Linked DNA regions of Homo sapiens: all the other regions are linked to region 6. Evidence: fine-mapped expression QTL. A gene starts in region 6. Each other region holds a variant in brackets. All regions are shown on one strand. Distances are from middle to middle. Region 1 has its middle 45 kb from the start of MCUR1. Region 2 overlaps PHACTR1 (phosphatase and actin regulator 1). Region 3 has its middle 39 kb from the start of MCUR1. Region 4 overlaps MCUR1 (mitochondrial calcium uniporter regulator 1). Region 5 has its middle 48 kb from the start of RANBP9. Region 6 holds the start of MCUR1 (mitochondrial calcium uniporter regulator 1).

The links. PIP is the estimated chance that this variant, and not a neighbour inherited with it, causes the effect. A credible set is the group of variants that fine-mapping cannot tell apart.
Region 1: its variant is the best candidate, but not a certain one, in a credible set for the expression of MCUR1 in whole blood (INTERVAL, PIP 0.69).
Region 2: its variant is the best candidate, but not a certain one, in a credible set for the expression of MCUR1 in spinal cord (GTEx, PIP 0.76).
Region 3: its variant is the best candidate, but not a certain one, in a credible set for the expression of MCUR1 in monocytes (Quach 2016, PIP 0.62).
Region 4: its variant is the best candidate, but not a certain one, in a credible set for the expression of MCUR1 in cerebral cortex (GTEx, PIP 0.83).
Region 5: its variant is the best candidate, but not a certain one, in a credible set for the expression of MCUR1 in fibroblasts (GTEx, PIP 0.82).

The regions. Positions count from the first base shown.
Region 1 is chr6:13,856,684-13,861,760 of GRCh38, reverse strand. No RefSeq gene overlaps it. Among named protein-coding and RNA genes, the nearest start is that of MCUR1, 45 kb to the right of the region's middle. The variant T/AT (reference allele first, on the strand shown) is at 2,523.
Region 2 is chr6:13,047,315-13,052,391 of GRCh38, reverse strand. All of the region lies in intron 4 of PHACTR1 (phosphatase and actin regulator 1), which reads right to left. Among named protein-coding and RNA genes, the nearest start is that of TBC1D7, 280 kb to the left of the region's middle. The variant G/T (reference allele first, on the strand shown) is at 2,620.
Region 3 is chr6:13,773,394-13,777,896 of GRCh38, reverse strand. No RefSeq gene overlaps it. Among named protein-coding and RNA genes, the nearest start is that of MCUR1, 39 kb to the left of the region's middle. The variant G/AAG (reference allele first, on the strand shown) is at 2,773.
Region 4 is chr6:13,784,944-13,790,020 of GRCh38, reverse strand. MCUR1 (mitochondrial calcium uniporter regulator 1) reads left to right here. Exons shown (of 9, transcript NM_001031713.4): 9 at 1-3,464. Among named protein-coding and RNA genes, the nearest start is that of MCUR1, 27 kb to the left of the region's middle. RefSeq lists a silencer at 700-868 and an enhancer at 1,537-2,369. The variant A/G (reference allele first, on the strand shown) is at 2,949.
Region 5 is chr6:13,757,494-13,762,570 of GRCh38, reverse strand. No RefSeq gene overlaps it. Among named protein-coding and RNA genes, the nearest start is that of RANBP9, 48 kb to the right of the region's middle. The variant GC/C (reference allele first, on the strand shown) is at 2,735.
Region 6 is chr6:13,812,354-13,817,430 of GRCh38, reverse strand. MCUR1 (mitochondrial calcium uniporter regulator 1) reads left to right here and starts at 2,874. Exons shown (of 9, transcript NM_001031713.4): 1 at 2,874-3,416. The coding sequence starts at 3,002. LOC107986571 (a long non-coding RNA gene) reads right to left here and starts at 3,621. Exons shown (of 2, transcript XR_001743986.3): 1 at 3,342-3,621. RefSeq lists an enhancer at 2,407-2,506 and silencers at 2,667-2,936, 3,017-3,686.

The DNA.
Region 1 (5,077 bases), 44 kb before region 6:
TGGGCTCAAGCAATCATCTCACCTCAGCCTCCCAAATAGCTGGGACTACGTGCCCATGCCATGCAACCACACCTGGCTAGGTGTTGTTTTGTTCGCATCTCACTATTTGTGTGGTCGGTTTCCAGCTCTTGGACTCAAGTGACCCTCCCCCCTTAGCCTCGCAAAGTGCTGGGATTACACTCATGAGCCACTGTGCCCCACTCAAGAGACATGTTTGAGGTGAGACCCAGTATCCACGAGAGAAGACCGATAAACTGTGTCCAGAATTCGTGCGTTCTTAGTCTAGACTTTAAAGCTGCAAACTCTAGTGATACTAGTTCTTAAAAACAGTATGTTCCGAGTTTCCTCCTGCTCACGTTTGGATGTAATCACTTTCTTCCTTTTGCTGGGTTCACGATCATCACCAACTCAGAAATGAAACCACAACCCTTACTCAGGGAGTATAACAGCTCTTGATGCCCCACATCTGGAGTTACTGATTTTCCCCGGTGCGTTAATACGCTCATCAACTTCGGGAATGAAACCGCACATTTTTAATCAACGACTGTTGCAACTCACAAAACTCAAAAAACTGAATTATAAACTTTAATTATAGAGTAAAACAACAACCCCTGTAAAACAACAAACCCTCCACATCCCCAGGAAACAACCTGACTGGCTTACCACTGCTGACTCAGGCACCCTGCTTTTATTCTCTTATATGGCCCCACCCACATCCTGCTGATTGGTCCATTTTACAGAGAGCCCATTGGCCAGTTTTACAGAGAGCTGATTGGTCTGTTTTGACAGGGTGCCGATTGGTGTGTTTACAATCCCTGAGCTACACACAAAAGTTAGATACAGAGTGTGGATTGGTGTATTTACAAATCCTGAGCTAGACACAGAGGGCTGATTGGTGCATTTACAAACCTTGAGCTAGATACAGAATGCCAATTGGTGCATTCACAATCCCTTAGCTAGACATAAAGATTCTCCAAGTCCCCACCAGATTAGCTAGATACAGAGTGCCGATTGGTGCATCCACAAACCCTGAGCTAGACAGAGGGTGCTGATTGGTGTGTTCACAAACCTGGAGCTAGACACAGAGTGCTGATTGGTGCACTCACAATCCCTTAGCTAGACACAAAGGTTCTCCAAGTCCCCACTAGACTCATGAACCCAGCTTGTCTAACCCAGTGGATCTCCCACTGGGGCCGCAGGTAGAGCTGCCTGATAGTCCCGCGGCTTGCGGGCCCGCGATCTCAGCCCTTCGGGGTCGATGGGACCGGGCGCGGTGGAGTAGGGGGCGCCGTTCGTTCATGGAGGTTCAGGCCGTGCAGGAGCCAACAGCGAAGGCGGGGTGGGACTCAAGGCATGGCGGGCTGCAGGTCCGGAGCCCTGCCCTGCGGGGAGGCAACTAAAGCCCGGCGAGAAATCGAACGCAGCACCGGTGGGGCAGCGCTGCTGGGGGACCCCGGCGCACCCTTCGTAGCTGCTGGCCTGGGTGCTAAGCCCCTCACTGCCCGGGGTGGCAGGGCCGGCCAGCCAGCCACTCCGAGTGCGGGGCCCGCCGAGCCCACGCCCACTCCGAACTCTATCTGGCCCGCAAGCGCCTCCCGCAGCCCCGGCTCCCGCCCCTGCCTTTCCCTCCACACCTCCCCGCAAGCCGAGGGAGCCGGCTCCGGCCTCGGCCAGCCCGGAGAAGGGCACTCACGGTGCAGCGGCGGGCTGAAGGGCTCCTCAAGGCAAGCGCCTCCCGCAGCCCCGGTTTCCGCCCGTGCTTTTCTCTCCACACCTCCCCGCAAGCCGAGGGAGCCGGCTCCGGCCTCGGCCAGCCCAGAGAAGGGCACCCACGGTGCAGCGGCGGGCTGAAGGGCTCCTCAAGCGCAGTCAGAATGGGCGCTGAGGCCGAGGAGGCACCGAGAGCTAACGAGGGCTGCGAGAGATGCCAGCATGCTGTCACCTCTCAATTTGACTACATAAAATGTAAATTTCATCCATCAAAACCAACACAAATAATAAAGTATAAAAACATTTGCAAGACACAGGAAAAAGGGCTAATCTATTTAATATAGGGAGTTTTTGCAGCTCTATAAGAGAAGGCATGTAAACAAAATATGATGCAACCAAAATTCTGAAAATGAAAATTTCAAAAAATCTGAAAATTAGCTATGCTTCACCATCAGTTACAAATATGTCTATATATCTTAGTACTGACAAAACAATAATTTCGTGTTTTATTTTAAGCAACATAGATTCCTAATCCAAAAAACATCAGGAGGTAAAGAATCTTCAAATTGGAAATGTTATTTAGTGGCCAAAACACCCATAGAAAATGAATTGCACTGCTGAATCATTTAAGATTGAGATATAGTGAAAATAATCTCACAGTATTCACAAGTACAAAACAACATAGTATAAAATAACGCTTATAGAGTTAATGAAGTATTTCCAAAATATTAGTTATTTCAGAAATATCTCGCCTCTAAGTTGACCCAACTTAATATGCTGACAATGACTTGAAGCATTCACTTAAAATATAT[T/AT]TTAAAATATTCATTTTATAGCTTCTTCAGAAGAAAGAAATATCTTACCTCTCTAGCTTCCATCTCATTTTTCCGTGCCCTTACAGCAAAACTCTTTAACCTGAAGATTAATCTGTCCATGATATAATGTTGTGAACAAATCAAACTATAAAGCGATAAGATTAGCATCTTTCCATTTTTTTACGTTTTAATAACTACAGGATATAAATATATGGTTTTTTAGCACAGAGAACATACTTCACAAGAGCAAAATTAAAGTAGGATATCTTGAACTTGAATTATAAACCCCCTATCGCTTAACAGGCACTTGTTGTTTTTGTAACTTTACACACTCCAATAAGGCTTTTCGAAAGTTTTAATGTGTAAAAGTATTTATTGAACACAAAGCTTTCAATAGAATATGATGTAAGCATTGAGCAGCTTTTGGATTTATAACATAGCTAAGTCCTAAAATGCAAAATTAAATTATTGAATGGTTTGGCCAACTTTAATAAAATAACTAGAGAAATTAAGGAACTTCCATATTTTGCTTTCATTGTTTAACTCAAAATATTTTTCAAAATAATTAACTGAGTTTAGAATGCAAATACATCCCATTGATCCAATTTTTTGAAAAAGGAAATAAACAAAATATAAAGAAACCATTTCTTGATTTTGCTGTTAGAGAGTATGATTCAACTTTGGGAATTACATTCATTTGGGGGACACGTTAATTGTAATGATTAGAAGATTTCAAAATGTTACAGGCAGGGCTATGGTAGAATAATACAATAAATTGAGTATATTCATGCATAAAAGCAGGCCTAAGAGAAAGACAACATACACCACCTGATTCAGAATCTCAAATTTCTTAAGTAAAAAGGCAGTAAGCAAGCACCAGACATACCCATTTATTTTGGCATTGTTCAAAATACACGTTTTTTACCTACTGTGTGAATTCTTGAGATTGCCACAAATTCCATCCCAAGAAATTCAGACACTATATCAAAGAATTTAAATTCTGAACAAGTTAATATTCCCTTTATAGCTTCAATTTCTATGAAACTGAATTTTCCAGACTAATAGAGGCACTGTGCAAAAAAATCTTCTTTGAATTAGTGAAAGATAATAAAAGTTCTTAGGCTGTTTGGATTAACAATAACACTCAAAACTTTGATTTAAAAAACTTTTCACAGTATGAATGCAAAAATCTTATTGAATGTTAATGCAACAGCAATGATTTTACCAAGAAAAATTAGAACAGATGTTTGATAAGGTTTATACTTCCTGGAAACATCATATGGTCAAGTTTTTAAAATAGAAATGAATTTTAACATAACCATTAAGGAAGCAACATCTACTATGCAGAAATGAAACCTAAAATGTCAATTTTTAAATAAACAGGGAACAATCGCAAGCCTCCTTTTTGATGAACTGGCAATACAGAAATGTATATTAAAGTTAATATTATCCACAATTCCCTAAACAAAACACAAGATACAGCTGCTGACTTATACAAATGTATTTCTTACGCCAACACAAATGGGTGAAAAGTCCATTGGGAGAAATGTAGAGCCATACAAAAAAAAGCATCTTGTAACTTGGTAGAGTTATTACCAGTAGAATCACAGGTTCGGATAGTCAGTCAAAAGTAACATTTTACAAAAGAGTATAAAATAGCATGCATTTAGGCTTTGCCAATTGCTTCAGTTTTCAATTAAAAGGGTATCAAAAATCATTACAGGCCGGGTGTGGTGGCTCACGCCTGTAATTCCAGCAGTTTGGGAGGCCCAGGCAGGTGGATCAACTGAGGTCAGGAGTTCAAGACCAGCCTGGCCAACATGGTGAAACCCCATCTCTACTAAAAAAATACAAAAATTAGCCAGGCATGGTGGCAGGCACCTGTAATCCCAGCTATTCAGGAGGCTGAGGCAGGGAGAATTGCTTCAACCCAGGAGAAGGAGGTTGCAGTGAGCCAAGACTGCACCACTGCACTCTAGCCTGGACGGCCAAGTGAGACTCCATCTCAAAAAGAAACAAACAAAAAAATCATTACAAATAAAGAAAACAGACAAGTGCTTCAGAACAGTGGTTCTCAAAGTGCAGTCCCCACATAGCAATGTCAGCACGTTAAAACTTGTCAAAAATGCAAGTTCTTGGGGCCGGCGTGGTGGCTCACACCTGTAATCCCAGCACTTTGGGAGGCTGAGGCAGGTGGATCACGAGGTCCGGAGTTCGAGACCAGCCTCGCCAATATGGTGAAACCCCATCTCTAAAAAGAATACAAAAATTAGCTGGGTGCAGTGGTGCACACCTGTAGTCTCAGCTACTTGGGAGGCTGAGGCAGGAGAATCCCTTGAACTTGGGAAGTCGAGGTTGCAGTAAGCCAAGATCGTGCCACTGCACTGCAGCCTGGGTGACAGAGTGAGACTCCGTCTCAAAAAAAAAAAAAAAAGCAAGTTCTCACCCCACTCAACCCCCAACTTGTTCAATCAGAAAGGAGGTGGATCCAGCAATCTATGTTTTAACAAGCTCGCCAGTGATTCCAACAGCAAGAGAAGGACTGGGCTAACTAC
Region 2 (5,077 bases), 770 kb after region 6:
TGTTCCCTCAAAAAATTCATCCAGACTTCTGCAACCTATGCATTCCTTGCAAGTTCAACCTGCCAATGACCATATAAAAATGATAGTCAGCTTGTTGTGGTCTGAACATAGTTTTAACTCAGGAGATCCATTCATTAAATACATATGGAATTCTGAGTGTGTGCTGTGGCAGTTGTATTGGTGACAGATGTGATAAGCTAGTAAGAGCTCCCCACAGCAGGACTGAAAGAAAGTAGATGGAATTGAGAGACACGTCAGAAGTAAAGTCAAAAGAACTTAGTGACTGATTGAGTGACCAGAAGGACTGGAGGCAGATCATTGGCAATTCCAAGATTCAGGTCAGCAGAGTGGTACCCTTCATTCATAGAGATAAGGAAGACAGGCGAGGACACAGGTTTAGGGGTGAGGGCAGTGATGATTTGGACATGCTGCAATGAACAGGGCACTTAAACCTTTACTACCTGGTTCAGTGCACTGGGAGCTCCTCTTTTCAATCATTTGATTAAGTGGCCACTTAAATCTCTGCCAGATACTATGATCATTTCTGGGGAAGACACACAGGAAAACTGGCCTTGAGCACAGAGTCCCAAGGAGGAGACAGAGAGATCAGTGTGTAAGAACATACCACAACAGAGCTACAATATAAAACTCAATGTAAGTGAAGAGGAGAGAGCAACTAATTCTGCTTCACAGCATTGGAGAAGACCTCGAGGGAGGTCACTTTGGGCTTAAGTTTTGAAAGAGAAGGGGCTGTTCTCCTGGCAAGGGGAAGAGGGAGAAGCGGATCCCTGGGAGGAGAAACAGACCCAACAGGAATAGAGAGGGCTGAAGGCATGGAACATCTAGGGACTTCAAGGAACTCAGTCAACTGTGAGCCTCAGTGACGTTAGGTGAGATGAAGCACTAGTGGAGAGAGACAGGGGTTGGAGGGTCTGGAACCAGATCATGTAAGCTCTTGAAATGAATTGGCATTTGGGGTTCATCCTCTGAGCAGAGGGACAAGGAAAATTTGAAAATGGGAAACTGGTATTATCACATTCAACCAAAATGTATTGTATGCCCACTCTGTACCAGATGCTTAGGCTATGACGGTAAACAAAACAAATAAAAATACCAACTCATAGAGCTCACATGCAGAGGTAGGGTGAAGGGCAGACAGCAAACACTGAAACCAAATAAATTATAGAGTATGCCAGAAGATACTTGCTTTGGGGAAAAAAATAATGAGTGGAACCTGGTAAAATAGATCAAGAGTACTTTGGGTAGAATGGGGGGGTCGGCCTGATCGAGAAGGTACGTGATCAGGATGCAATTAGATTTGTTTCTTAGGAATATCTTTGCAGCAGCAAAGGTAACCTGACTCGGAATATGGGGAAATCCTTGACAGCGAGAACAATCAGGAGGACACTGCAATCACAGTAACTAGGATTCAAGCAGGGGCATGACAGAAGGATAGGAAGAAAAGATGGGATTCAGCCAGGTGGGAGAATCAGCAGATTTGGTAACTCTCTGGATAAACATGAGAAAGTACCAGGAAGCAAGAATGGCTAACATTTTTAGTTTTCATGACTAGGTCAATGTGATGATTTTACATGTTTTAAAGAATTTGATGATAAAGGAAGAAGCAGAATAGGATGGCAGCTCAATGGGGACAAGAACTTTGCAGCCAGATAATTCAGTATTTTTGCAAAGGCTTTTTAGGGGTTAGAACTTTATTTCCTGAGGTAATGAAGAACTATTGAGAGGAAATTTGCCAAGGTAGGAAGGAGAGACTTGATTTGGGGGTCAGTAGGCTGAGCTGCCAGAGCCAGGGGAAAGTGAGAGATCGAAGATGTAGAAAAAATGCTGAGAAATGTATGAAACATGGTTCTTAGGAAGGCGAAGAAGTGGGATCAAAAATGCACAAAAGTATTACTGATCAGGAGATTTTATGCTGAGTGATTGAAAGTTTGAACTGAGGTCTCTGATCACAAATGGCATAGATCAGATGTGGGCCTCAGGGAGATTAATTTCGCAGCAGTGGTAAAATAACAGATTACTGGAGGCTAAAGGAGGAAGATAAAAGATTCAGAAGGTTTTAAGTACGGGTTGTGGAATGGCTGAAGAGAGTGGTAACAATAACAACAACACAGCTACGACAAGGAATAAAAAAAGAAATCAAATCAGGCAAGTAAATAGCCTCAGAAGTAACACTGAATTTGAGCATTCTGCTTTTTAAAAGGCATCAGCTGCTTGAATTGGTGCTTCTTCAACAATGTCAGCAGAGCCACACAAGTAGTAATAATTGTGGGAAACCACAGCAAAGAGGTGCTGAGTCCAGGAGAGAAGCAAAGTCACCATAGTCCAGAGGTCTGATTCTCACAGGTCACTTCCTCTTTCATACTCATCACTTTCCCCTCATTCCTTACCTTGGTGTATAGTCTTGTTGCTTTTGTCCACATTTTACAAGTCTCCAAACCTATATTCCCAGACTTACTCTCCTGCCTTCAAACCTGTATTGGATACTTTTACTAGAAGCCTGTTCCTTGTAGGAACTGCAGGTGGCTCCCCACAGCATACAGTAGGAAGTTCTAATTTCCTGTACTGGCCTTCAGACAAGGCCAAGAATCACTTATTCAA[G/T]TTTTTTCCTCCATGAAATAACCTATTTTTTATATTAAAACAACCTGACTTATTACTCTCAACCTGAGTAAGCTGCTCAGAATGATCTTCTAGTACTTCTCTAAACACGTGTTATAGCCAAAATGAAATACTCCTGGTAGAAGCACTCATCCCGGGATCTCTGGATCCTAGTGGGCTTCAAGGGGATGGGTATCTGCATTTGGTTGGAAGATTTCCTATCATTCTTTGATTCTCAAAACAGCCTAAGACACAAAAGTGAAGTTTTTAAAATATTCAGTTTGAGAATTCTCTGAGTTCAGCCAACATCAAACATCTGCTACAGGTTAAAGAGAAATTATATACAGAATCCTTTAAAAAATCAAGATAGTAATTATTCAGGGTTGATACTGAGTTTGCTTCTCATAGTTGGCACTCAATAATGACTTACTGAGTAGATAACTGGGTAACTGCATTTGATTCAGTTCATTTGCTCACATCTTCAGAGGTATGAAAATATGTATCGTTACTTGTCTTAAAAAAAAAAGTGCCATGAGAACCGAAACGCTTTTCCATAATCACATCTTTAAGAAATGGATACAAATTATTCTGAAATTGCCCCATTAAAATAATGATATGAAATTAGAAGTGCCTTTGAAAAACCAAGAGTGGCAAGGAACACAGGGTATTATAAAGGTATAATTATAACTCAATAGTTAAATGAATCCTTAATAAGTATTATTATGAAATTCATGATGTTTAGCTCTTAAATTCAGTAGATTATTGAGCAGACTGGATCACATTAGGTTTAGCTGATTTATATTTTAATCACCCCATTACATTTTTCTCCAATTAATTTGATGATGGGGCTAGCTTTGCCATCAGATAATGATATTGGAAGGCTTAAGTGTGAGGATGGCTCAAGAGTGAGCCAACTTATGAACACAGTTTGAAAAGGAAGGGAAGGCTTGGTGCGGTGGCTCACGCCTATAATCCCAGCACTTTGGGAGGCCAAGGCAGGTGGATCACCTGAGGTCAGGAGTTCAAGACCAGCCTGGCCAACATGGTGAAACCCTGTCTCTACTAAAAACAGAAAAATAAGCTGGGTGTGGTGGCATGTGCCTGTAATCCCAGCTACTGAGGCTGAGGCAGGAGAACTGCTTGAACCCAGGAGGCAGAGGTTGCGGTGAGCTAAGATTGCACCATTACACTCCAGCATAGGTGACAAAAGTGAAACTCCATCACACACACACACACACACACACACACACACAAAGAAATGGAAACCAAAAAACAGGTCTCAGGATAAAGTGGTCTCCCATTGCAGGAACCAGAGAAAGAAAGGGATGAAGGCAAGTGGGAGAGCAGGGCGTGGCCTGCCATGTTTTGGAATCACAAACAGCCTTTTTTGGAAATGGAGCATGTAAAGACAGCTTCACTTTGGCCTGCTCAAAGGTGGCTACCTCATGCTGTCTGGAGAAAATGCTGAGCCACACATGAATCAGCTTGAATGTCAACTGCCAGGACTGAGCATGTTGAATCAAAACGTTGGAAGCTGGGCAGCTGAGCTCCTTCAGAAGGCTGAAGTGAGGAGAGAGCCATGGGCAAGCAAACTCCTGGGGTCTTTCCTGCTCTACCATCCAAGAGAACACTCTTTGAAGGACCACACAGTTTGGGCTCCCACTTATGACAAAACTGGGTTTTGTTTTACCCATAGGGTGGAAATGATTGGGAGATGATTTTTCTTTCTCCTTAGACAGGCCAGAAAGAAAATATTTGATGTATGCATGATTTTAATGACAAGAACCAAAGTACCTAGGCCAGATGGTGTTCTGAACCCCAGCCCTGGTGGCAACCTGGGATTACTCTTGGTGGGCTCCTAGGGCATGCAGCGGGAGGAGCTGGGCCGGGGCTCGGGGCGCTCCTCAGGTACACCATATTTCTCATGGTGGTTTGGCTTTCAAAAGGCTTGTGCAAAGATGGCATCACCTTGGCTTTCTGCTGGCCTAGAAAGTGCTCGTCATACAGTATCCCAGGGAGCAGCCTGGAATGAAGGAAGCATGGTGTCTGTGCCATCTGATGTCTAGTCAGAGTCAGCACCAGAGGCAGGAGGGCAGCCCATTTGGGACCCCAGTGGAGATCTCCCCATGTGCTAAATGCTCCTAGGGTTTTTGGAGGACCTAAGATTCTCATAAATTGGATTCTTGTTTCTTAACCCTAAGTGAACTCAATAACAGAACGTTTATGTTGCAGGATCTGATAACCTTCGCTTTTGCTTGTAATTAGAAGGGGTTATATACCTCCCTTATTTCACCACCCTAGGAATGGGAACCAAAGATCAGAGTGGAGGTAAGGTAGGCTGTCAGCTCACTACGCTGAAGCAGCAGCACTGCCTTTTTTTTTTTTTTTTTTTTTTTTTGAGACAGGGTTTTGCTCTGTCACCCAGGCTGGAGTGCAGTGACATGATCTCAGTTCACTGCAA
Region 3 (4,503 bases), 39 kb after region 6:
CATATAGGTAAGGGTTTTTAAGGCAGGGAGGCAGGGGTTATAGGCAGTCATGAATTAATTTTTTGAGCTTTCCCTATTAATATTTATGTGAATGAGCCTGGACAACATGGTGAAACCCCACCTCTAAAAAATACAAAAATTAAATACAAAAAATTAGCCAGGCATGGTGGCAGGCGCCTGTAGTCCCAGCTACGTGGGAGGCTGAGGCAGGAGAATGGCGTGAACCCGGGACACGGAGCTTGCAGTGACCTGAGATCACGCCACTACACTCCAGCCTGGAGGACGGAGCGAGACTCCTTCTCAAAAAAAAAAAAAAAAAATTAGCTGGGTGTGATGACGCAGGCAGGAGGCTCAGGCAGGAGGATCACTCAAGTCCAGGAGGTCAAGGCTACAGTGAGCTCTGATCATGCCACTGCACTCCAGCCTGGATGACAGAACAGGACCCTGTCTCAAAACAAACAAAAAAACAGAAAGAAAGAAAGAAATGTATGTGGGCTGGGCGCGGTGACTCACGCCTGTAATCCCAGCACTTTGGGAGGCTGAGACAGGCAGATCACCTGAGGTCAGGACTTCGAGACCAGCCTGGCCAACATGGTGAAACCCCGTCTCTACTAAAAATACAAAAATTAGCTGGGCATGGTGGCAGATGCCTGTAATCCCAGTTACTTGGGAGGCTAAGGCAGGAGAATTGCTTGAACCTGGGAGGTGGAGGTTGCAGTGAGCCAAGGTTGCGCCATTGCATTCCAGCCTGGGCAACAAGAGCGAAACTCCATCTCAAAAAAAAAAAAAAAAGAAAGAAAGAAAAAATGTATGTGAATGCCTTTGCTTGGTTGTAAGCACCAGCAAGTGCTAGTAGGCAAGCAGTAGCAAATCTCCAAAGCTTAGAACTCCATGGGAAAACATTTAAGATGGAGAAAACCGTACCTATTACCTTTTTCCTGAGACTTAACAAAACCATGATTATTTCGTTTTAGCAGCACGATATCTTGTTACGGTTGCTAAAAACCAGTTTTTACAGGCAGATATTTGACCAGTAAGAATACTATGAGTCAGGAGCCCTGGCCGTAGCTCCCCACCTTGCCACTTGTTGCACTCTTGGGAAAACCATTTGACCTTGCCAAGCCTAAGTCTTAGTCAGTCCGGACTGCTATTACAGAATACCGTAGACTGGGCGGCTTCAACAACAAACGTTTCTCTCTCACAATTCTGGAGGCTGGGAGGTCTGAAATCATGGTACTGGCTGGCAGATCTGGTGTCTGGTGAGAGCCCACTTCCTGGTTCACAAATGGCTGTTTTCTTGCTGTGTCCTCACACAGAGTGGAGAGACGGAGGAAACAAGCTCTCTAGAGTCTCTTCTTTTTTTTTTTTTTGAGACGGAGTCTTGCTCTGTCGCCCAGGCTGGAGTGCTGGGGCGCGATCTCGGCTCACTGCAAGCTCCGCCTCCCGGGTTCACGCCATTCTCCTGCCTCAGCCTCCCGAGTAGCTGGGACTACAGGCGCCCGCCATCACGCCCGGCTAATTTTTTGTATTTTTAGTAGAGATGGGGTTTCACCGTGTTAGCCAGGATGGTCTCGATCTCCTGACCTTGTGATCTGCCTGCCTCGGCCTCCCAAAGTGCTGGGATTACAGGCGTGAGCCACCGCGCCCGGCCTAGAGTCTCTTCTTATAAGGGCACTAATCCTATCATGAGGGCTCCATGCCTATGACCTCCTCACCTCCTCATACCATCACACTAGGGAGCAGGGTTTCAACACAGGAATTTGGGGGAACACAAATTCAGTCCAGAGCACCTTAGTCCTTATGTTTCGAAAACAACAACAACAATAATTATAATAGGAATGCTTATAGAGCATTTATTTACTGTATTCCAGCTGTAGTTTTTTGTTTGTTTTTTGTTTTGGTGGGGGTTGGGGTCTCGCTCTGTCACCCAGGCTAGAGTGGAGAGATCTCAGGTCACTGCAGCCTCCACCTCCCAGGCTCAAGCAATCCTCCCACCTCAGCCTCCCAAGTAGCTGGGACTATAGGCATGTACCACCACACCCGGCAAATTTTTTGTATTTTTTGGTGGAAAAGGAGTTTCGCCATGTTGCGCAGGCTGGTCTCAAACTCCTTAGCTCAAGCTATCTGCCTGCCTTGGCCTCTCAAAGTGCTGGGATTACAAGCATGAGCCACTACACCTGGCCTCCAGACATAGTTTTTTTGTTTGTTTGTTTGTTTTTCCGAGACAGAGTCTTGCTCTGTCACCCAGACTGGAATGCAGTGGCTGATCTCAGCTCACTGCAATGTCCGCCTCCCGGGTTCGAGCAATTCTCCTACCCCAGCCTCCCAAGAGCTGGAATTACAAGTGCCTCCCACGATGCCTGGCTAATTTTTTTTTTTTTTTTTTTTTTGTATTTTTAGTACAGACACGGTTTCACCATGTTGGCCAGCCTAGTCTCGAACTCCTGACCTTGTGATCCACCCGCCTCAGCCTCCCAAAGTGCTGGAATTACAGGCGTGAGCCACCGCGCCCGGCCCAGGCATAGTTTTAAAGTAATCACAATCTCATTTAATCTTCATCACATCCCTATGAAGTAAGTACTACAGTGATCTCTATTTTGCAGATGAAGATACTGAGGTATAGAAAGTTTCAGTAGACTGGATGAGGTGGCTCACACCTATAATCCCAACATCTTGGGAGGTGAAGTTGGGAGGATCCCTTGAGCCCAGAAGTTTGAGACCAGCCTGGGCAACATAGGGAAACTCCATCTCTATTTATTTAAAAAAAAAAAA[G/AAG]AAAGAAAGAAAGAAAGAAAAAAGTGGGCCTGGCGTGGTAGCTCATGCCTGTAATCCCAGCACTTTGGGAGGCCGAGGCAGGTGGATCATCTGAAGTCAGGAATTCAAGACCAGTCTGGCTAACATGGCAAAATCCTGTCTCTACTAAAAATATTAAAATTAGCCAGGCACAGTGGCGTGCACTTATAATCCCAGTTACTCAGGAGGCTGAGGCAGGAGAATCACCTGAATCCAGGAGGTGGAGGTTGCAGTGAGCCGAAATTGTGCCACTGCACTCCAGCCTGGGTGACAGAGTGAGACTCTGACTCAAAAAAAAAAAAAAAAAAAAAAAAAAAATAGTAATAAAAAAGTTGAAGTAACTTGCCCAAGAACACATAGCTAATAAATGGTGACGTCAGAGTCAAACCGAAGCATTCTGATTCCAGGGAATAGATACCCTACCTGGCTGACCACATGTGGTAAGGATCAAATGAGGTCAAATACATGAAAATATTTTCTAAACAATAAAACCCTGGCCAGGTGCAGTGGCTCACGCCTGTAATTCCAGCACTTTGAGAGGCCGAGGCAGGTGGATCACAGGTCAAGAGTTCAAGACCAACCTGGCCAAGATGGTTAAACCCCGTCTCTACTAAAAATACAAAAAAATTAGTCGGGCATGGTGGCAGGTGCCTGTAATCTCAGCTACTCGGGAGACTGAGGCAGGAGAACAACCTGAACCTGGGAGGCGGAGGTTGCCCTGAGACGAGATCATTCCGCTGCACTCCAGCCTGGGCAACAGAGTGAGACTCCATCTCTAAATAAATAAATAAATAGTAAAACCCCATACCTACATATAAAATGTGTAGTCTGCATGCAATAACTGGAATCCTTTGCTAGTAATTACTAGTAATATTACTTGCCCAACCACCAAACAAGCAAACTTCTGTTAGTACCCTCCCTGGCAACCACCCCAGGGTACTAAGGTGAATTTACTAAGATGCAGTATCCTAGTAAAAGAACATTCTTCTTCGAGTATCTAGGGTACAGACTGTAGTAGGTATTAAAACAACGTAGGTAACCCATGGACATATCCGTAAGCTCTCAAGTGTTATACATCAATCTTCCATGCAGACCCCAGGGTGATTGTGAATATTTATATTTTTATTGGGGAATCTTCGTATAAAGGGGTTGATGTTGACATGGAGCCCACTGTTTGGGTCTCAGAGTCACCCTGAGTTTAGGCCTTAAATACTTGTTTGATTCAGTACCCTTGTTTTTGAGACAGGGTCTCACTTGTCACCCAGAGTGCAGTGGTGCAATCTCAGTTCACTGCAACCTCTGCCTCCTCATGCTCAAGCCATTCTCCTACCTCAGCCCTTCATATAGCTGAGACTACAAGCACGCACTACCATGTCTAGCTAGTTTTCGTATTTTTTTGTAGATAGTGTTGCCATGTTCCCCAGGCTGGTCTATGAACTCCTGGACTCAAGAAATCCGCCTGCCTTGGTCTCCCAAAGCGCTAGTATGTCTGGAACTGGTAGGTTCTTGATCTCATTGAAATTATGAATGAAGCCACGTACCCTCGCGGTGTGTTACAGCTCTGAAGGTGGCGCGTCAGGAGCTTATTCCTTCTGATGTTTACATGTGTTTGGAGTTTTTTCTTTCTGGTGCGTTCGTGGTCTCGCTGCCTTATGAGTGAAGATGCAGATTTTTGTAGTGACTATTAAAGCTCAAAAAAGCAATGTAGACCCA
Region 4 (5,077 bases), 27 kb after region 6:
TAGTTGGTTGTCATGTTAATAAGACAGCTGCACGTCTACCTTCTTTTCTTTTGATTTCCATTGTCTTGGTAAGTTATTGTTAGGGTTATTTTTAATGTGCCTTCCAGCCAGAAAAATCAGCTGTCTAAAGAAGCATTGCAATTGTAATGGGGACTCTTACCTCTTAGAATGCAAGATTTTCCCTCCTCCCTCCCTCTTCTCCATCTCTTTCCCTCATGATTTGAGAACTGTAATAATCCTCCACTGGTGGCATTACCTACCTAGAAAACCTGCTGATTCTTAGCATGGAACTTTGCTTCAGTTTGCAGGACAAAGTCTGCTTCCTTCCGGTCTTCATTTACTTTTTATACAAGGGATGCAGTCAGCTCTCCATGTATAAGATACCTAGATGATGGATACATATTTCATAAATGAAATTTATGTCATTAATGAATATCCCCTTGCCCACAACCAGCTCAGGCTTTCAAAATTCGAGAATGGTCATGCCACACAGCATTCTAATCTAGATGGATTAATTCTGTTGTTCAAAACATTCTCATACCTGCCTTTATATTGAAAACAAATTCTAGATACAACTGGGGTTATTCTGGAAAAGCACATTCTCACCTTTTTTTTTTTTTTGAGACGGAGTCTCGCACTGTCGCAGGGCTGGAGTGCATTGTCGTGATCTCTGCTCACTGCAACCTCTGCCTCCTGGGTTCAAGCGATTCTCCTGCCTCAGTCTCCTGAGTAGCTGGGATTACAGGTGCCCACCACCACGCCCAGCTAATTTTTGTATTTTTAGTAGAGATGAGGTTTCACCATGTTGGCCAGGCTGGTCTCTAACTCCTGACCTCGTGATTCACCCGCCTTGGTCTCCCAAAGTAGTGGGATTACAGGCGTGAGCCGCTGCGCCTGGCCCATTCTCATCTTATTCAAATTACTGGCACATGGGCAAGAGAGACAATGACATGGATAGAAGCTTTTCTGCCTTTCTCTGCACACACATACAGTGAAGGAACCACAGGCAGATTTTTTGATCAGTTTGGTGAATACATTGCTCGTTGTCACTGTTCCAACCACATTGGTAAAAAAAATAGTTACCTTTTGTCCTTTGGATGTCATGTCTAAACTTTGGAAAATATAAGTCATTGCCCTTTTAGAGAATGTTTGTGTAGTCCAAAGATTGTGAGCTCCATATAGTATGAAAATCAAGTACTTTTGCATGAGCAATAGCAGTTTCAAAGTGAAATATTATAATTTAATCTTTTTCAAGTAGATCAAAAATTCTTAACTGATTAATAAAATATTTTATCAATATATCATCCCCCTTTCAGAGAGAAGTCCCCAGAAGAGACAGCACACTTAGCAATTGCCCTCATTATTAAAGGCCTAGGTGAGTGGCATAAAGGGCCATATGCGATTATGTTTCAAGGTAAACATTACCTAACCTTGTGTGGGTTAAAAACAGTGAAGTGTCCTTGTATCCTGATAAAATTTTTTTTTAAATAACATGGTGGGTTGACATTTTTGCATCTGCTATAAGTTTTCTCACATGTCGTTCTTCCTGGTGAGAGCGGGCTGCATCATTCTGGCACTTAATTTGGGTGTTCGATTTTGCTATAGAGTTCTTTGCAGTACAGCATAGCCTCTTCTTGGCCTTGGGAACAGTGAACTCTTCTTTTGATGGTGTGGATTGCATGCATATCTGGAGAGAGGAGGGCTCAGGACTGTGTTCACTTTATTTGGTCAGATGTATTTTATTTGAAAACCATTTGAGCCCAAAATACAAGTGTACCCTTCCCACTTCTGGCTCAAGCACCCGTGAGCCGACTAGACGTAATATTAAAACTTACTGATGCTGGGTGCGGTGGCTCATGCCTATAATCCCAGCACTTTGGGAGGCCAAGGCAGGCAGATCACCTGAGGTCAGGAGTTGGAGACCAGACTGGCCAACATGACGAAATGCTCTCGCTACTAAAAATAGAAAAATTAGCCAGGCGTGGTGGCACACCCCTGTAATCCTAGCTACTCGGGAGGCTGAGACAGGAAAATTGCATGAACCTGGGAGGCAGAGGTTGCAGTGAGCAGAGATTACACCACTGCAACGAGACTCGGGCCCAGACGAGATCTGCCTGGGCGACACAGTGAGACTCTGTCTCAAAATAAATAAATAAGTAAATAGAACCTCCTGAGCTACCCTGGCTTATAAGGATTCAGATTACTTTAGGAAATTAGGCATTAGCACTAGGAGGGGGGAAGATGGCTGGCAAAACTTCTAGCTAGCAACCTATGTCTAGCACATGGGTAACTAACCATAGCGAGATCCTGAACACATATCCTCTAGGTGCAGGTGGAGGGAACGATGTCCAATACCTGAAGCAGAATCTCACATGGACGGAACGTCTGTATTTCCCTCTCCTGCACGAATCACTCATCATTCTTGGAGGGCTTCTCTGCATTCCTCCTTTTCTTCTCTCCCCTCCCCTGCCTTTTGTCTTTTCTAAAGAGTCTGAACTCCGATTTCCATGCTCTCCTGCTACATTAATAAGCAAAACCTGCTTGTGTGTACGGTTCTTTACTGGAAACATGACTTTTTGTTTCTGTATTGGTTTTACTGTCATCCAGTTTTCTAGTTTAATATCTAGCAAAACTAAATCTGAATGTACTCGCTTTTTCCGTTAAGTATGCCAAGCACCTCGGTTGAAAGGCTTGACTCAAACCAGAAGTCTTGCTGGAATTCGTCTCTGAACACTTGAAAAACAGAAACCCTGAGCCGCAACAAACATGCCTCTGTGTGTCGGGATTGCCTTTGTCTCTGCTTCCATGTGGCTTTTCCTTTTGTAGCTATGCTTAGTGACATAATCTTCCCTCTTCTAGCCTTCTCCTTTCAAGCCTGTCTGTTAATTAACCATGTCAGTATTGGCAAGCATTTATCTTCCCCCACCCTAACATGCAATCTTCTAAGA[A/G]TTTTGCAAAATTCTAAACAAATATAGAGATGGTATATAGAATTCATATCTAGAAAACTTTGATTTTAATGTGAGCTTATCAAATTTGTTCTGGCTTTTTTGGCACTAAGGCAAAAACATGTTAACCAGAAATAATTTATTCTTCATGTATGTAAAATATTTGAGAATGTTTAGCCTTTTATTAGAATTTTATTTGGAAAATATTTATCTTTCTACACATTTTACACTTATGTTCCTTTGCTTATAACCCAATTTCTTAACTTTTTTGTTACTTAAGCAAATATCAATTATGTTTTATTATCTAATAAAGTGTAAGATTCTTACTATCTAAAATATTTAATTCTGTGTGACTAATATACTTTTCTGATCATTCAAATTGAATATGAAAAGCTAGAATAACTGTATTGCAACTGTTAATTCCAGCCAATTGTATAATGATAACACTGGTGAATTTCTAAGTAAATCTAATACTTGAAAATTTGGGTATACATAGAAAATAAATTTTAATATAATGTACAAAGTAACTTTTCATCATTCAAAAGAATTTCTTTAGCATGTTCATGTTATGAGTAATTTTATACAAGCTACTTGTTTGAGGGGAAATGATGAGGTTTAAATACAGGTTTTTAGAAATAGACAATTTTCTTTTTTTTTTTTCTTTTGAGACAAGATACTACTATTGCCTAGGCTGGATGGAGTGCATTGGCGCAGTCACTGCTCATGGCAGCCTCGACCTCCCAGGCTCAAGCGATCCTCCCACCTCAGCCTGGGACCCAAGTAGCTGGGACCACGGGCATGCGCCACCACACCCAGCTAATTTTTTTTCTATTCTTTGCAGAGATGGTGTCTCACTATGTTGCCCAGGCTGGTCTCAAACTTCTAGGCTTAAGCCATCCTCCTGCCTCAGCCTCCCAAGTGCTGGTACTACAGGCATGAGCCACTGCACCTGGCTGAGAAATACACAATTTTAAAAAATATCTGGCCGGGCACGGTTGGTCTTGTCTGTAATCCCAGTACTGTGAGAGGCCAAGGCGGGTGGGTCACTTGAGTCCTGGAGTTCGAGACCAGCCTGGCTAACATGGTGAAACCCTGTCTCTACAGAAAATAGAAAAATTAGCCGGATGTGGTGGCACACACCTGTAGTCCTAGCTACTCAGGAGGCTGAGATGGGAGGATGGCTTGAGCCCAGGAGGTAGAGGCTGCAGTGAGCTGTGGTTGTGCCACTGCACTCCAGCCTGGGTGACAGAGCCAGACCCTGTCTCAAAATAAAATAAAAATAGCTATAAGGATTCATGGAAATCCAAATCAGGCTAGCTTGAGCAGAAAAAAGAATATCCTTTTTTGGCTTATGTAACCAAGGTTCAGGAAGGACCAAAAAAATGCCATTGTGAGAACTCCCCTCTGCACCTCTTACCTTTGCTTCTTCTCTGGAGGGCATAATCCTCCTAGACCTACTTCTTCAAGCACAGAGAGCCTGTGTGTCTGCAGGAAACACCCAGTACATCCCCTTACAGCTTAATGATTAGTGAGCTCCACCCTGAAAAATCTTGGGAAGGAAATATCTAAAGCAAGCAGCTGGGGTCACAGGAAGCAGAAGGGTCCTCAGAGGGATGCACACTTCACCTTCCCTGAGGGCCTGTTGAGCAAATTCCCCACCTCCAAAAAATTGAGCTCTTCTTGAGTCAGCCTGTGTGGGTTGATCTTCAGTGTAATTAATACCTGCTCAGGAGGAGAGGAAAGGAACATCTCAGAAAAGGGGGTAAATGAAATACAGGTCTGGGCACGGTGGCTCACATCTGTAATCCCAGCTCTTTGGGAGGCCAAGGCAGGAGGATCACTTGAGGCCAGGAGTTCGAGACTAACCTGGACCACAAAGCAAGACCCTGTATCTAAAGTGAATGAATGAATGGTAGCCTGGAAATTTCAGTTACATCTCATTTTCTCCAACCAGAAATCTTGTACCAAAGTTAGAATCAAATAACTAGACTTGAGGGGGAACTGCAAAATTTCCAGAAGGCAACTAGCAGATGAGGTAGGCAAAGGCGGTAAATGATTTGCAAACTCAACCTTCAAGTTCAAAAATGGTGGGCAATGTGTTAGATTTTAGTCATCCTTCCACATCTCCCCTA
Region 5 (5,077 bases), 55 kb after region 6:
ATGCATAGACTCTTTCTGGAAGGATACACAAAAAAATTCATAACAGTAGTTGCCTGGGGGGATGGGAACTGCAGGGGGGAATGCTGTGAGGGGGGTATACTCTTCACTGTGCACTGCTTAATTTTTTTTATCATGAGCATGTAATAGATTTTTTAAAAATGAAAACTGGGCCAGGCGTGGTGGCTCACGCCTGTAATCCCAGCACTTTGGGGGGCTGAGGCAGGCGGATCACCTGGGGTCAGGAGTTCAAGACCAGCCTGACCACCATGGTGAAACCCCGTCTCTATTAAAAATACAAAAATTAGCCGGGCCTGTTGTCGGGCGCCTGTAATCCCAGCTACTCAGGAGGCTGAGACAGGAGAATCGCTTGAACCCAGGAGGTGGAGGTTGCAGTGAGCTGAGATCACGCCCATTGCACTACAGCCTGGGAACAAGAGTGAAACTCTGTCTCAAAAAAAAAAAAAAAGAAAGAAAGAGAGAAAGAGAAAGAAAGAAAGAAAGAAAGAAAGAAAGAAAGAAAGAAAGGAAAGAAAGAAAGAAAGAAAGAAAGAAAGAAAGAAAGAGAAAGAAAGAAAGAAAATGGATGTTTAAATACTAAGGCTCCTCTTGGGAAATATTCCCTGACTCAAATATCTCTCTTGACTCCTGCACCCAACTCCCCAGGAGGAAATTGGGAATCTCTGAACAATCCGTGGGCTGAATACGAAGGAATCTGCCTGGCTTCTTGGATACACACTTCATACTCTCAAGGACAGCCCTCTTTATTGGAATGCACAAAGTATGTGGAAAAGAGATACCATGTCTTGTCGGATTCAATTTTGCTCCTAACATAGTGTGGATTAAAGAGTAATCAATAGTGACTTTAAGCACATTCTTTCCGGCAGTATCACAGAGAAAATGCAGCTGGTAGTGAATGTACCAGCCTGCTGATTGCAGGGAGCTAAACATGTGTATTGTATCTCCAGATGCCTGACACTACCTGCCAAGCCAACATGAAGCACCCACCCAGGTTGGACCAGGAAGCTTCCTACCTGGTCACGTAGGAAAAGACTAAACACATTCATAACGTGTCTATACAGGTATTGATTCTCCAAGAGATGATGGATCAGGCTTCAGAAAGAGTGGTGACCTTATTGTATGTTTCTGTATTATCTTTGCTGAGCTAATGGCCCACTTCCAGACCAAGAGCACAAATTACAAATGAATGCCCCCAACAGCAGTTCCTTTTCCATCTTTACTATACGGGGAGCCCACTAAAATAAAGGCTGTCAATGCAGCATCTCTCATTGACAGTCTGTTCATTGTGGGCTAACTGGATTGTACTGGACAGAGTTCTATTCACTGGAAATCATTAGCCAACTCCAGAGGGAGGAAAACGGAATAAAAAGGAAAAACATTGCCCATCACGAAAATAACTCGAGAATTGTGCAATCTGGCAACATTGGTCATCTGTGTTGAACTTGCTTTCAGCACTCTGTTAAGTGTACTGTACCACACCCTACCTCTGAAGCGATTACTCCCTTCCTTTTGAATAGCAAAGTAATGGGAACTGGAAAAACTTCTGTGAATTTGGCAAGGTTTAGTATAAATGTTTCCATTAAATCTGGGCAAGGCATGGATGGGGGAGGGAAACGCATCCACCGATTATGCTTTTGTGCTACCTCTTGGTTGAGGGTTACCTTTCAGAGGTGAAGCCAAACTTTTCCCATCCTTGAGATCATGCCTAGACCTAGTATACTTGGCTGACAATATGATTTTGCTACACAGCTTATATATCGTTCACATATGTTTGGAATTATCATGGAACTTCATGTTGTACTGAAAGGTTTCCCACAGCAAATTCTTTTGCACATAGAGCTACCTAGTGTCAGAGTTTCTTCCTAAGGACACCACACTTTTCCATTTAACACAACAGGGCAGGTGCTTCAGAGGATTTCAGTTCAGTCGGGAGAAATTTACTGACTGTTTTCATACATGTTCATGTCTTGTTGCACAGCCACTCTGCGAGGCTGACATCATTGACTTAACTTTACCAGGGAGTAAGCCATTGCTCAGGGAAGTGAGTGACCTGCCAAGGCTGCCCCACTGGTACATGCCAGAGCTGGGACTCACACCCAGGTCGTTCTGGCTCTTATGGGAGCTTCCTCCCCTGCAGTAAAGCCCTCTTTGATGCTGAAGGTCAAGGTGTGGCTCATAGTTTGGACAGGGCTTTTAGGGAGCCTGGCCAGACCCTGGAGGGACGTTGATGAGAATGGGGACTTGGAGTGGGAGAGTTTCGGTAATCCACCACACAAGTGCACCTGGAGCCTGAGAGGTGGGGTTCCTCCAGCTTAAGGGCAGGTATGGAGGGACTAAGCCACAGGGTAGGACTTTAGAAAGACTGAGGAAAACACAGGTGGGCCTTTAGTTGTGGAGGATATAAAGGAAGCCATGATGGCATTGACACAGAATCAAAGGTATCAAAGGGGTCAAGATGAAAAGCTTCAAGGCGAAACTTTCATCACAGGGGCTATGGTGGTGAGCCAATTACTGGAATCAGGTCACAGCAAGACCAGCACCAGCCTGACTCGGTACTAAGCCTCTACTATGTGGCAGGCACTATTCTAGTTATTATGGAAGTAGCCATGAACAAAGTAGATCAAGTATCTGCCTTCGTGAAACTGGAGTATAGTGAGAGAAGATGAATAAACAAGGAAATATATATCTAATTAGGTTAAATACTATAGGGAAAAAA[GC/C]TGCATAATGGAGTTCGTCGTGCTGGTGACGGTGGTGGTGTTTGCTATTTTACATAAGGTAGTGAGGGAAGGCCACAGGCCATGGGACATTTGAGCAGAGACTTGAAGGAAGGGAGAGGGTAAACTTCCTGAATACCTGGGAGAAGAGCTTTGCGGGCGGAAGGAACACTTACCGCAGAAGCTTTGAGATCAAGGGTACTTGGGGTGTTTTGGTATAGCAAAGAGATCAGGTTCACAGGTCAGGGAAAGCAGTGTCTGAGATGATGGTTGGCACACATATGATGCTTACTAGGAAGTGCTCTTGGGATCAAACCATGGAAGGGAAAGAGGGGCAGGAAGCAAGACTGGGCAGAGGGGGATGAGCTGTGATGCAGTCTCAACTAAAGCCCCAGACAACCCCATGGGGATGTTGAAGATAGGATGGCCCTTCAGAGCTGCTCTGAGCTGGGGAGAGGGGACAGGCCTTTACACCTCCAAACCATTCAGCCACTGGATACTGGCTACGTTGAGAAGGGAGTGAGATAGGGTGTTGAGGGGGACAGCGCTCTCCAGCCAAGGCCACCTCAGCATCCGAGGGGTGGCAGCCAGGAGCACGCCTCAGCTCCTGAAGGACGCTCTAGGCAGCACCTGCTGGTGGGATTGGAGCTTGAGCCAGGAGGCAGGGACAGAAGATGAGCTCAGGGAGGTGTCCAGGAGCCAGACTGGGGGAGCCACTGTGGGCCATGGTAAAGACATGGCCTTCTCTTCCTCATGAGGTGGGGAGCCATCGAAGGGTATGACAGAGGAATGCTAAAGTCTGGCTTCTGGGTTAACCTGATCACGCTGGCAGCTGTGTGGAATAGACCGCAGACGGGCGAGGGGGAAGCACGCAGGCTCACTAGGGGGTGCCTGTAGTCCTCCATGAAAAAGGAGACCAGTGTGTAGCTGGTGGCGGGTGTGAACAGTTGTTGGATTCTGGATATATTTTGAAGACAGAGCCAATAGGATTTGCTGATGAATTGGATTTGGGGTGTGAGAAGGAGAAAAAAATGAGGACAACACCAGTGTCTCTCTGGAGTAACTAAAAGGCTGGTGTCACCATTTACTGACACGGGGAAGCTTGTGTATGGGTTTCCTATTGCCACCATAACAAACTATCACAACCTTAGTGGCTTAAAACAACACTAGTATGCTCTCTTACAGTCCTGGAGGTCAGAAGCCTAAAGTCAAGGGGTTGAGTCTGGGTGTGGTGGCTTGGTTTGTGCCTGTAATCCCAGCACTGTGGGAGGCCAAGGCAGGTGGATCACCTGAGATCACCTGAGGTCAAGACAAGCCTGCCAACATGGTGAAACCCTGTCTCTACAAAAAATACAAAAAAAAAAAAATTAGCTAGGTGTGGTGGAGCAGGCCTATAATTGAACCTGGGAGGTGGAGGTTGCAGTGAGCTGAGATCATGCCAGTACACTGCAGCCTGGGCAACAGAGGGAGACTGTGTCTCAAAAATAAATAAATAAATAAATAAACAAATAAATAAATAAATGATAAAGTCGAGGGGTTGGCAGGGCTGTGTTCCTTCTGGAGGCTTCAAGGGAGAATCCATTTCCTTGTCTTTTCCAGCATCTAGAGGCTGCCTGCATCTCCTGGCTCATGGCCTCTTCTCCATCTTCAGAGTACGTCATTCCAGCCTCTGGTTCAGCTGTCACATCTCCTTTCTCTTTCTGACTCTGATCCTCCTCCCTCTCTCTTATAAGGACCCTTGTGATGACATTGGTCCCTCCCACATAATCCAGCAGCATCTCCTCATTCTCAAGATCTTTAATTTTCTCACATCTGCAAAGTCCCTTTTGCCCTGTATGGTAGCATGCACAAGTTCTGGGGATTCGGATGTGGACATCTTTGGGAAGCCGTTATTCACACTTTGGAAAGAGCCTGTTTTGCAAGGTAGAATCTGACTTTCATTGTGGACATGTTAAATTTGAGATGCCTTGTTAAATGTTCAGGTGGAGATGTCAAGTCAGCAGTTGGATACGATATGAGTCTGGCATTCAGAAGAGCAGTCCCAGCTGAAATATGAATTTGGTAGTTTTCACAATATACAGAAGTGCCCTCTTATCTGTGGGGGATACTTTCCAAGACCCTCAGTGGGTCTGTGGGCCTGAAACCTCAGATATTACCAAACCCTATATACTGTGTTTTTGCCCATAGATACATAATCATGATACAGTTTAATTTACAAATTAGGCACAGTAAGAAATTAACAGTAACTGGTAATAAACTAGAACAATTAAAACAGTCTACTGTAATAAAAGTTATGTGAATGTAGTCTCTTTTCTCCTCCCTGCCTCTCTCTCTCCCAAAATATC
Region 6 (5,077 bases):
TCTTGTTGCCCAGGCTGGAGTGCAATGGTGCAATCTCAGCTCACCGCAACCTCCACCTCCTGGGTTCAAGCAGTCCTCCTGTCTCAGCCTCCCAAGTAGCGGGGATTACAGGCATGTGCCACCACACCCAGCTAATTTTGTATTTTTAGTAGAGACGGGGTTTCTCTAGACTGGTCTCCAACTCCCGACCTCAAGTGATCCGCCCTCCTTGGCCTCCCAAAGTGCTGGGATTACAGGCGTGAGCCACCGCGCCCGGCTGCTCATTAACTCTGATTGGGTGACATGCCCATGCCTGTGGTCTGCAGAGCGATCAGTCTCTCCAAACCGCATGGACTGAGAGCAGAGAAGAGCCACTGCCCATGGAAAACTAGGGTGCTGAGACCAAAAGAAAGGGAATGCTTTGGAAAATAAAACAACAGGTGTCACATCCAAGGAAAAGTGGATGCTATCCAACCTGTAGTTAGAACTGACATTCATTATACTCCTATCATAGGCCAGGCACTGTGCTAAGTGCTTTACATATGTTATTGTATTCAATATGGCTGGTAATAGTAATACATGAAAAGTTAGTCAACATCATTAGGCATCAGGGAAATGTTATGTTAAAAATCACAATAAGGTACCATTTTATGAGGACTGAAAATATCAAAATTTGGCAAGGATGTGGAACAACCGAAACGCTCATCTATTGCTAAGAGTGTGAAAGGGTGCAGTCGCTTTGGAAAAACAATTCAGCAGTGTCTAAAGTTAAGCTACCATATGATTCAGCAATTTGACCCAGATACTTTCCCCAACAGGGATAAAAATTATGTCCACACAAGGTCTTATACAAGAATGTTCATAACGCCCTATGCATAATAGCCAAAAACTATAAGCAAAGCAAATGGCCATTAATAGAATGGATGACCGCTTGTGGTATGGTCATACAATGGAATACTATTCAACAATTAAAAGCAACTAATTACTGATACAACAGCATGGATGAATCTCATTGATATTGAAGTCAGACGCAAAGCAGAAGAAAGACACAAGGCAATGCATATTGTAGGTCTCCATTTACATGAAGTTCAAAAAAAGACAAAACTAATCTATGGTCATTGAAATTTGAAAATAGTTGGCCGGGCGCGGTGGCTCACGCCTGTAATCCTAGCACGTTGGGAGGCCGAGGCGGGCAGATCACAAGGTGAGGAGTTCGAGACCAGCTTGGCCAATATGGTGAAACCCCGTCTCTACTAAAAATACAAAAATTAGCCAGGCGTGGTGGCAGACACCTGTAATCCCAGCTACTCAGGAGGCTGAGGCAGGAGAATTGCTTGAACCCGGGAGGCAGAGGACACAGTGAGCTGAGACTGCACCACTGCACTCCAGCCTGGGTGACAGAGCAAGACTCCGTCTCAAAAAAAAAAAGAGAAAATAGTTGCCTTGGGGTGGTGGTGGATTGTCTGGAAAACTGGCACAAAATAACTTTCTGGAGCAATGAAAATGTTCTAGATCTTGACTGGGTGGTATATACAACTGCTAAATGTCATCAAGTTGCTAAATGACATTTATCAACTGCTAAATGTCACCTAAGTCTGTGGAATTTACTGTATGCAAATTATACCTCAATTTTTAAAAATTACAAAGGACTAACATTAAAGTTTGTGCCACAGTTTAATCGTTCCTCTAATGTTGTGCACTATTTTCCCATTTTTTCACAATCACAAATTATGATACAATGACTATCTTTTGTGCATATGTGAAATTACCAATATTAAGCATTTTGACCCATAAAAATGACAAGTTTGTATAGTCAAACCTAGTAGATATTTAATATTTTGGATTATTCCCATTATCCCCATTTTTAGTTAGGTGACTTGAGAAAAGTTTACAAATTTTTGTTGATACTCATTGCTAAACTGCTTTTTCTACCAATTTTATAAATGTATACTCCTTTTACAAAAGTGTCTTAGGTTGGTGCAAAAGTAATTGCGGTTTTTGCCATTACTTGCAATGGCAAAAGCCGCAACTACTTTTGCACCAACCTATGACTTGAATCCTGTTTTTCAGTTCTTCAAATTTTGATAGACACTTATCTTGCACATCCATATGCACGCTCCTCTCTTCCCAGCACTTTGTACATCTCTCATGGCTCATAACACATTCTTCCATCACGTATGTGTACACATATGGCTGTATAGGAAAACAGCTTCTGGAGGATAAGAACAATTTGTTTTGCGGTTTTTTATTTTTAATAAAATCTCCTAGCTTGGTGCCTTATGCATTTCATTTATTTATTCAACTAACATCTTCCAAATTCACATAAGGGACCAGTTATCTGTGAATGGTGTAACAGGCCTTCAAAAAGTCCACGAAACTAAACATTACCAGTTTCAAATATACCCGACAGGTCTCATTTTAACATTCATGCCCCACGTTTTAAGTTCCCAGATTGCTACCTTCCCATGTTTTTGGTGCTCTAATCTGGAAACAAAAACTCTGAAAATTTAGTTTTGAATGTATTATGTGAGGGCCTTTCCCTGGGCCCTGCTAATAATTCCTTAAAATGCTCCCCAGAACCACATGTTTGGGGACTTAGGATAATCAGTGAAATCTAGGGCAGCCTGTCGGTCTGAGACTTTTCACAGGACTCTGAAGGGCACCGGGGTAATTCCTTTTTAAGGACAGCAGTGCAGTGAAAATGCAAATCGTGACAGCAACAAGCTCCTTCCAGTTCCGGAGTGCCCGCAGGCTCCTCCCGGTCGCCGCCGTCGCCTAGCGAATGGGGTGGGGGCTCGCACGGTCCCCGCATCTCGGAGCGCCACGGCGGGCTCCTGCCGCCCCGCCCCACCCCACCCCCGGCGCGCGTCCCGAGCCCCGCCCGCGCGCCCGGCAGGAAAGGGCGGTCCTGCGCTGTGGCCCACGCTCGCTCCCGCTGTCGGACTCTGGGCCTGGACCGCGCGTGGCCGGCGCCAAAAGCGAGAGGCATGAGCGCGCGCCCGGGCCAGTGAACTGCTCGGGGATGGACTGCGGCTCGGTCGGCGGCCAGAGGACCCAGCGCCTGCCCGGCCGCCAGCGGCTTCTCTTCTTGCCCGTGGGCCTCAGCGGAAGACCGGGCGGCAGCGAAACCTCAGCACGCCGCTGCCTCTCTGCGCTCTCCGACGGTCTGGGGGCGCTGCGCCCTCGCGCCCCGGCGGCCCGCGGCGGCGTGTCACGTGCCTCACCGCTGCTCCTCCTCCTGCTAGTGCCCTCCCCGCGCTTGGCCGCCGCAGCCCCGCGCCGGCAGCTCGGGGACTGGGAGCGCTCGCGCCTCGGGTATGCCGCACCCCCGGCCGGGCGCAGCAGCGCGTGGAGGTGCTCACCGGGCGTCGCCGCTGCCGCCGGCGCCCTTCCCCAGTACCACGGCCCGGCGCCTGCACTCGTTTCCTGCAGGAGAGGTGAGGCCCGGGCGGGAGAGGAGAGGGGGCTCGTCTCGCGGGGTTGGACGGCGGGGCGGGGATCTCAGCTACAGCCTCCCCGAGGAAAGGCCCGGCAGGCCGGAGGGCGGGTCCTCCAAGGCCACCGGCATCTGCCCGGAGCGTGGGTCGAAGGTCCGGGCCCGCCCTGCTCGGCCGCGGTGGCGGGGCTTAGCCCAGAAGAGACGAATTCCTGGGAATCCCGGGCGCTAAAGTTGGAGGGAGGTGCGTGCTGGGGCGGGGAGTTGGTGCCCGCCCACTCCTAGGGTCTGCTTTTGGGCGCCGCCTTCCAGGAGTTCTGTTTGGCAGCGCCCAGCCTGTTGGGCGTTCAAGGGGAAGGGGTGTGTATGTTTGAGCAGCAAAGCTCTGGGAAATGAAGGGATTGCTTTACAGTTTGATTTCAAATTCTGATGGAATCATTAATTCGTGGAGTCCTAGCGTCTGCCCTGTCCCTGGCGCTTTTCTAGATGTGTGAGATATATCAGTCCACAAAATCTTCCCTCTGGAGCTTAATTCTAGCAGAGCAGACGCAGTAAATATGTGTGTGTGGATATACGTATGCATAATTGATGTATATATAATTTATATATACAAATAATTTTTATATATTCGTAATTCGATGCCTGGTATAGAAAAATAGGATAAGGCTTGGGAAGTGGAATGGGTCTCCAGTTGTGAATTTAAATAGGGTGATCAGAATCGATTTCATTGAGAAGGTAGCATTTAATTAGAGTCATGCATCTCTTCAGGACAGTCGCCTACTGAGAAATGAGTCATTAGGCGACTTCTTCCTTGTGTGAATATTGTAGAGTGTGCTTACACAAACCTGGATGCTACAGCCTACTACACACCTAGACTATCAGGTAGAGGCTAGTGCTCCTAGGCTACAAACCTGAACAGCATGTTACCGTACTGAATACTAGAGGCAATCTGAACACAATGGTATTTGCGCATCTAAATGTAGAAAAGGTAGAGTAAAAATATGTATTATAGTCTCATAGACCACTGTCGTGTGTGCCCCTCTGTCCTGGGCTGAAAGGTAGTTGTGGGGCTCATGACTATTTAAAGGAGGTGAGAGAGATCACTGCCCTGGAGATGAGGAAAGTAAATAGAATCAATTTATTAGATAGCATATTGTTGATTAAAGAAAAAAATCATTTCTGATAATCAACAGACTTGGCAAAATTATCACTTTGGGCAGTCTATACATATTCATTAGTAGCCATCACTAACTACACATTTTTCATATTTTCTTCAACAGATAGGCCCACTAAATGTTGACCATATCTATAATTTAAGAATATCATTGGCTGGGGTAAAAACTGATTAGTAGAGCAATAAAGTGAAGGAAACTTTATATACAGAGAGTGGGGAATGAGTAGTGAACTCGGTGTCACTGTCCTTCAGTAATTAGGAGTCGGAGATGAGTTTGGTCTTTATTCTGTATTTTGCCTTTTGTTGCGCTTTTTCTGACAAGCTAGTAATTTCCAATTTGTTTTTCTCTCAATGCAAGAGTATAGGGCAAAAAGAGAGTGTTCTTTCTCACGGATTTGCTGACCAATCGGTAAGGTGGTACTGTTGTTTTAGTGTCAGCTATCTCATTCTTCAGTCATCATAAAAAATGAGTATGGATGCATAAAAAC